Homo sapiens: one gene and its partner. The protein of the gene in region 2 interacts with the protein of the main gene of each other region in a pairwise test. Each region holds a gene or a part of one and is shown on either strand. Other genes may lie near its edges.

Evidence for each region.
Region 1: the proteins of DEK (region 2) and GPATCH11 interact in binary tests that used the Homo sapiens proteins (3 or more experiments, as listed by UniProt).

What each region holds. Positions count from the first base shown.
Region 1 is NC_000002.12:37,087,323-37,091,246, reverse strand, and holds part of GPATCH11 (G patch domain-containing protein 11), read right to left. Parts: intron 2,879-3,924; 5' UTR 2,866-2,878; coding exon 2,807-2,865; intron 1,608-2,806; coding exon 1,381-1,607; intron 567-1,380; coding exon 525-566; coding exon of another isoform or gene 521-524; intron 1-520.
Region 2 is NC_000006.12:18,250,651-18,254,574, forward strand, and holds part of DEK (protein DEK), read right to left. Parts: intron 1-3,924. UniProt on the Homo sapiens protein: Involved in chromatin organization.

The DNA of each region.
Region 1 (3,924 bases), on a different chromosome or scaffold from region 2:
GTTCAAGCGATTCTCCTGCCTCAGCCTCCCAAGTAGCTGGGATTACAGGCATGCACCACCATGCCCGGCTAATTCTGTATTTTTAGTAGAGATGGGGTTTCTCCATGTTGGTCAGGCTGGTCTTGAACTCCCAACCTCAGGTGATCTGCCTGCCTCGGCCACCCAAAGTGCTGGGATTACAGGTGTGAGCCACCACGCCCGGCCAACTCTTGGCTTTAAGCAATCCTTCTGCATCGGCCTCCCAGAGCAAAACAGTTTTAAGACATTTCAATGGACAAAAACAGTATTGCACATTCAATGGTTGTAATGATTTGTTCTTCCCATATTCGTGTGGTTTAAATTTTATTTTATACTCACTAAAACTTATTTCTTTTCTGGTTGAAGAGGTTTAGAAATTTAACAAAATTTTACTGAACTGTAACAGTATTATCATTTAAAAAAAAGTATTTATTGAGCAAATATATGTGGTAGACCTAAGCGTAAGTTATTATTATTGGCAAATATGCTCCAAAATAATTACGTACCTGTTTTGATATTGAGAGGAATTGGTTCAACAATACCACCCCCTTAAAGAGAATGAATACAAACTATTTTAGAAAATTTTCCTCAAACTACAGAACAGTATAAGTATGCAACTTTACAATGCTCTATGCATATGCCCTCCTGTTTCAATGATATTCAAAATTGAAATCTGAACATCTATATATATTCTATATATAATCAATTATCTACCTTGTCTTCAAATACCTACTCATCAAAAAGGCTGATTCACAGCCTCCTATGCCACCTGAAGGTGGAGTTTTAAGAAGGAACAACACTGATATTATTGGTGCAAGACGGTGACAGCCTTAAGTGAAAGCAAAGCAATTACGATAAAGGAAAGAAAAACGGTTTACAGAGGTTACTATAAATATATAGCCTCTCTAGCTTAATAAGCAGTTTCACTTCCTAAAAAGAGAGGTGAGAATTGAGCCTCTCCAACTGGACGGTCATTCAGATGGCTGCCACAGGTACAGAGCAAGCAGGGCAAAGTCTTGCCATCATCCTCAGTGTTGTTTCAATGTATTTAGCCATTGCACTTCTCAACCCATCACTTATCACCATTCTTTGCTTCTTCTGTTGTAAGCCACATCCATCTAGGTTGTTAGTGCCTTCAGCTAAGCTGGGCTGATAAGCAGCTCTTGATGGCACATGTGGTATCTAAAATGGATGTGGGATGATGAAAAGCTCTCCATAAGGCTTGTTAATACATAATAGACTAAAAAGCCTAAGTTGTTATAATTTCTGTGTAGATAAAGATTAAAGCATCAGCTTTGGTCCTTATCCATAAGTCACAATTAGGTGGTAAGGAATACCTGTTTATTTCCACATGTGACTTACCACTCTTGCCAAGTGCCTGACCACTTTTATAGCCCATCTTTTGGAGCAAGGCAAACCCTTTGTTTTCACAGCCTAGTGCATTCTTCAACCCAATGTCACGTCTTTCTTGTTCTTCTTCTTTTAAACTCTTCTGCCTGTTTTTCAAATTGGCTTCCTGTTGCTTTTCTTCTTTTCGACGGGCTTCTCGGATTTGCCTTAGCATTGGCAATCCTGGTCTGATATCTTCTCTGAATAAGGGAAAAGTTTATTTTAGATGAGTCCATAAAGTTTTCTTTTCTTTTTTTTTTTTTTTATTTTTTGAGACGGAGTTTCGCTCTTGTTGCCCGGGCTGTAATGCAATGGCATAATCTTGGCTCACTGCAACCTCCGCCTCCTGGGTTCAACCGATTCTCTTGCCTCAGCCTCCTGAGTAACTGAGATTACAGGCGCCCACGACCATGCCCGGCTATTTTTTGTATTTTTAGTAGAGACGGGGTTTTGCCATGTTGGCCAGGCTGGTCTTGAACTCCTGACTCCAGGTGATCTGCCCGCCTCAGCCTCTCAAAGTGCTGGGATTACAGGCGTGAGCTTCCACGCCTGGCCAAGTTTTCTCATAACTCTGTCACTTACTCACCTGACAACAGTTAATATTTCGGCACTACCTCTATGATCATCTTTGTTATTATGATATTAGAACATAATCAGTGACCTCTAAGAATGGCTGTTTTAGTAGAAATGATGAAGGCTGGTGCCAGATCATAGGAAAATAAGGAAAGCACGAAGTTGAAGAAATCAGATATAGTAAGTTTAGACTTACTATGTTTCTAGGATGTTGGCAATAATAAAGAACAAAGTTGTATAGCAGCTAGAAGAGACAATATGATGTAATAAAGGAAAAGGAGTAAATTTCCTTGGAAGAAGGCAATAAAAAGGATCAAGGGCAAAAGTAAAATGGTTAGCATTAAAAGGAGGAAGTAGATTCTAGTATCTTTCTATGGTGACATAGGAGGTATTTCCATAAAGCAAGAAGACTGACTTTCCCACTGCACATTTAAAATCACTGTCAGGCTGGGCACGGTGGTTCATGCCTGTAATCCTAGCACTTTGGGAGGCCAAAGCCGGAGGATCGCCTGAGCCCAGGAGTTGGAGACCAGCCTTGGCAACACAGTGAGACCTTGTCTCTCCAAATAATAAAAAAGAAGAGTTAGCCGGGCATGATGGTGCAGGCCTGCAGTCCCAACTACTCGGGAGGCCAAGATGGGAGGATCTCCTGAGCCTGGAGAGTTTGAGGCTGCAGTGAGCTAAGATTGTGCCACTGCACTCCAGCCTTGCTAACAGAATGAGACCCTGTCTCAAAAAAATAAAATAAAATAAAATAAAATCAATGTCATTTCTTAATCTACACATCTTATACATATCATTGCACTGGGTGTGCACATTTACTTACTGGACATTAATGAAGGAATCAGACATATAGTCCTCTTCTTCTGCCATGTTCAACTTCATATGGCTATAGTATCTACAAATAAAGTAATAATTACTTTTTTTTTTAGTTTATCAGAATGGAAATAAACCTTTCTGTATCTGCAGCCATGAGCTGTCTCTAGAGCTCTACTATATATTCAAGTGCCCTTTGGACATCTTTATCTGTGGACATTTCAAACTCAACAATCTAAACAACTCATTTCTTTCCCCTTTCCCCAGCCTTCTACATCCCCTGTGTTTCCATGTTGATGTCATCATTATCTCCTTCTTCCTGACCTCTTATGAAGCTGTCAAGTCTTCCTCCATAAAACTCCTCACAGACGTTTTCTCTACAGTTGTGACCACTGCTTTAGTTCAGGCACTTTTTTTTTCTCACCTGAACTATTACAACAGCTTCTTAATCAGCTTCTTAGTTGGTCTCCTCTTCCAGTCCATTCTCTGCACCCCATCCAGAGGTTTTTTGTTTATTTGCTTGTTTGTTTTTAAATACAAGTCAGGTCACGTTACTAGCCTGTTTCAAATCCTTCATTAAACCTGACCCTGTAGGCAGTGGGGGACCAGTCACTTTTGCAAAGCATGAGATGTTGTCCTTCATAATCTGACACAACTGTCCCTAAGGATTCATTATTCAAGCCCCATGGCTCCTCACTGCCCTCTGAACAGAGTACAAACATTTCTTCCCTGTAGGCCAAGGCTACCCTCCCTTCAGAAACCTCTCCTGACCACTCCAGGCCTTTCTCTACAGCACTTTATGTCCAAGCTGCTCATTTGGAAGTTGATATAGTTAACAACTCACTTATGTGGAAATATTTTGAGGGACAGTTTCTATCCAAAATAGTTAAAATCATGTAATTATTGGCCCTTAAAGGGTTAAAGTAATTTTCTACAAAAGTACTTCTCAAACTTTATTGTGTATACAAATTGCACTGAGATCTTCTTAAAATGCAGAATCTGATTCTGGGGCTGGAACCTGAGGTTCTGCATTTCTAGCAGGTTCACAGGCAATGTCAATGTTGCTAGTTCAGTTGCTTAAGACAAAAGTGTATTCACTTGTTGTGGTGCATATGTACTGTTTTTTCC
Region 2 (3,924 bases):
ACGCCCAGCTAATTTTTGTATTTTTAGTAGAGACAGTGTTTCACCATGTTGGCCAGGCTGGTCTCAAACTCCTGACCTCAAGTGATCCACCCACCCTGGCCTCCCAAAGTCCTGGGATACAGGCATGAGCCACCACGCCTGGCCCATAAAAAAAATGTATAACTTTATTACCAATTATACATCCTGAATTTATGAATGAACTATACGGTTTATATTCATTACTTCTGGCCTCTACTTTCAACAATGTCAGGCTCATATTATCACTGATGCCTATAAGTATACAATAAATGATAAGTATGTTAATTATGAAACTAAGAATATGCTGCTATTATTCTGATAATCAATTAAACCATGTATATTAAAAGCAGAGATCACCTGATGAAAATGAGTTGATTACAGTAAACAATAAATTTAATTTTTAAGTGCTTTCTCAAGGAAGTTTTGCTAAATTCTAAAATTGAAAACCATAAAATTACCTAACATCAAGAATGTTAAAATGCGCATTACAGAATTAATATTTATTTCTGGGATTGAGCATCTTTTATATTCTTTTATTTCTACCTTTGTTACTTTATTTTCTGCAATAAGCAGAAACATTAAGGTAAAATTCCATAACATAACCTTAAGGTATCCAATTGTGTAAATGTTTGTGATAACTTTAGGCAATATTTTTCTTGCAGAGACTAGAACGACAGGTCCTTTACCTCCCAGGAACCTCCAGTCTAGGGGTCACTGTCACCTACACAAAAATTAAGAAAAAGTGGCTGCTTTGTATAATATGGTACTCTTGAGCTCTCTGCAAAGAAACCACAGGATAACCTAGATTGCTCCAACAACGTACCCTTCTAAAGGCACACTAGGAAACAGCAAAATTAGGTCACTCCAGGAACTTGAAGTTGGTGGATCAAAGACATTTCTCAGAGAAGATTCTCTATAAGAAATCGTGAATGCATACACATATCCTTGCTATGTGAGATACTACCATTAACAACTATTATCAGAACCTTAATCCATGTGGATAAATTCTTTGATAGCACCGTTTGGAGAAAAGGTAACTCTCACTGTCCAAGCTCTTACTACTTGTTACATGATCTCCAGGTCTCAAATGTATTAGAAAAACATAATATCCCTCACAATCTCAGCTCAGAAACCAGACACAGGTAGCAAGGATGTAATCTGTATATCGAATTATTAGTATGAGGACTGAAACAGGTTCTGGATAAATCTATCCAGGAAAGTGAAAAGATGTTAAGTTATTCAAGCAGCCAATAAAAAAAAAAATGCAATTCCCAAAAGTAAACGAGGAGTTTTAAAACCAAAATCCAAAAAGTAGTAATATACAAATGCCTTAGAGTTTTCCTATACTACTCCAAAAATAGTTAAATCTATTAATCAAAATCCAGTGTCAACAGCATTATCTCTTTTTGGAAACAAAATCTGATTAACAAATAAAATAAGGTAAAGTACAATAGAAGGATAGGAAAGCAATCAATGATTAATGTTGTGTTGATTAAACCATTGAGAAATTGTTAAAGAGGAGAAAAAGGAAACTTCTTGTAGCATAGAAAATAGCTCTAGGCCAGACATAGTGGCTCATGCCTGTAATCCCAACACTTTGGGAGGCCAAGGTGAGAGGATCACATGAGCTCAGGAGTTTGTGACCATCTTGGACAATATAGTGAGCCCTTGTCTCTAAGAAAATGTAAAATTTAGCCACACATGGTAGCATACACCTATAGTCCCAGTTACTTGGGTGGCTGAGGTGAGAGGATCACCTGAGCCCAGGAGGTCAAGGTTGCATTGAGCCATGATTGTACCACAACACTCCAGTCTAGGCAACAGAGTAAAACGCTGTCTCCAAAAAAAAAAAAAAAAAAAAAAAAAAGAAAATAGCCTGAGCTCGATACTATCAGATTAAGGAGTAATCATCACAGAATCACATATGAAAAACTGACATAAGAGTTAAGATTCTATATGACAAGAAAAAACAGATTCTCACAGTGTGGTTCAAGGACTTTGGGGTTTCCTGAGACCTTTTTCGGAGTCTCCGAGGTAGAAACTATTTTCATAATAATAGCAACACTATTTATCTGCTCTTTTCACTGTGTTGACATTTGTACTAATTGCAAAAGCAAAGGAAAGCAAAGGTGGGTAAAATTGATGGCACCTTAGTACTAATCAAGGAAGCAACATATATTAGTCACTGTATTCCTCACAACCACACACCAGCAGAAACAAACAAGGCAAATGGTTTCACTTAATAATGTCCTTGATAAAACAATAAATACTGTGTTAACTCTCAAGTACATGTCTTTCTAATATCTGTGACAAAATGGAAGATATACATAAATATGGCTACAACTGAAGTTCAATGGTTTTCTGAAGGAAAAGCATTTGTGTATCTGAGTTGTGAGCTAAACACGCTCCAAGCTCCTTTTTCATAGAACCCCACATTTTTTTTTTTTTTTTGAGACAGTCTCGCTCTGTCGCCCAGGCTGGAGTGCAGCAGCACGATCTCGGCTTACTGCAAGCTTCACCTCCCAGAGAACACCACTTTTTAAAAGAACAAATATGGCTAACTCAGACTTAGGTATTTGATAGAGATGTTTTCAAACATGAACAAGGTGAGCTTGTCACTTCAAGGAAAACTGAGAGCATTTATCGCCAATGATAAACGTTATGATTTCAAGTGGGAACTAGAATTCTGGAAAATTCACATCTACTACTGTGAACTTGATAGTTTACCAAGGCCTAAGTAATTTTTCTGATGAGATGATATTTATATTAATGAGCATGATTTAATGACAGTGTTCAATAAAACGTCAACATTTGGAAGACATAATTCAGGGAACCAATATTTACAAGCGGTAAATGCATGTTACAAAACTATACATACAAGACCCAAGTTAATTAACCTGGTTTCAGACCTACATTAAACATTACAACTAATCTTTAGGAAACTACAACTTATGTAGAGTTTTGGTATTGTATGGTATCAAAAAGAGAATATACACAATTATCTAAAAAGACTTTAAAAATATTCTTTTTATGTGAGGCTCGGTTTTCTTCATATACTTATTATTTTGAGAGAGGATCTCATTCTGTCACCTAGGATGGAATGCAGTGGCATGAAAATAGCTCACTGCAGCACTGACCTCCTGAGTTCAGGCTTCCACCTCAGCCTCCCAAGTGGCTGGGATTACACGAGCGTGCCTCAGCGCCTGGCTAATTTCTTCTTGAGACAGTCTCACTCTGTCACCCAGGCTGGTCTTGAACTCCTGAGCTCAAGTGATCCACCTGCCTCGGCCTCCCAAAGGGCAGGGATTACAGGCATAAGCTACTGCATCAGGCCCTTCATAGATTTTAAACAAAACAATACATTGCAAAAGACTGAATGCGGCCAGGCACGGTAGCTCACGCCTGTAATCCCAGCACTCTGGGAGGCCGAGGCGGTCAGATCACCTGAGGTCAGGAGTTCGAGACCAGCCTGGCCAACATGGCAAAACCCCGTCTCTATTAAAAAGACAAAAATTAGCCAGGTATGGTGGCACACGCCTATAATCCCAGCTACTGTAGAGACTGAGGCAGAAGAATTGCTTGAACCTGGGAGACAGTGGTTGCAGTGAGCAGAGATTGTGCCACTGCACTCTAGCCTGGGCAACAGAGTGAGAATCTGTCTCAAAACAACAGTAACAACAACAGTAACAACAACAACAACACAAAAAGACTGAATGCAGAAGCAAATGGTAATCAAGCTGTTTTCTCTTAAGCCAGACATTAAACAGATGTACAAAAACATAAAATGCCACTCTTTCATTCTTTTGAAAAGTTATTTTTCCTAGAAAATATTATTTTTAACATTTTAAAATAAAAATTTTTCAGTTCTAATGTCAAATACAGTGAAGATCAAAATAACTCATATTA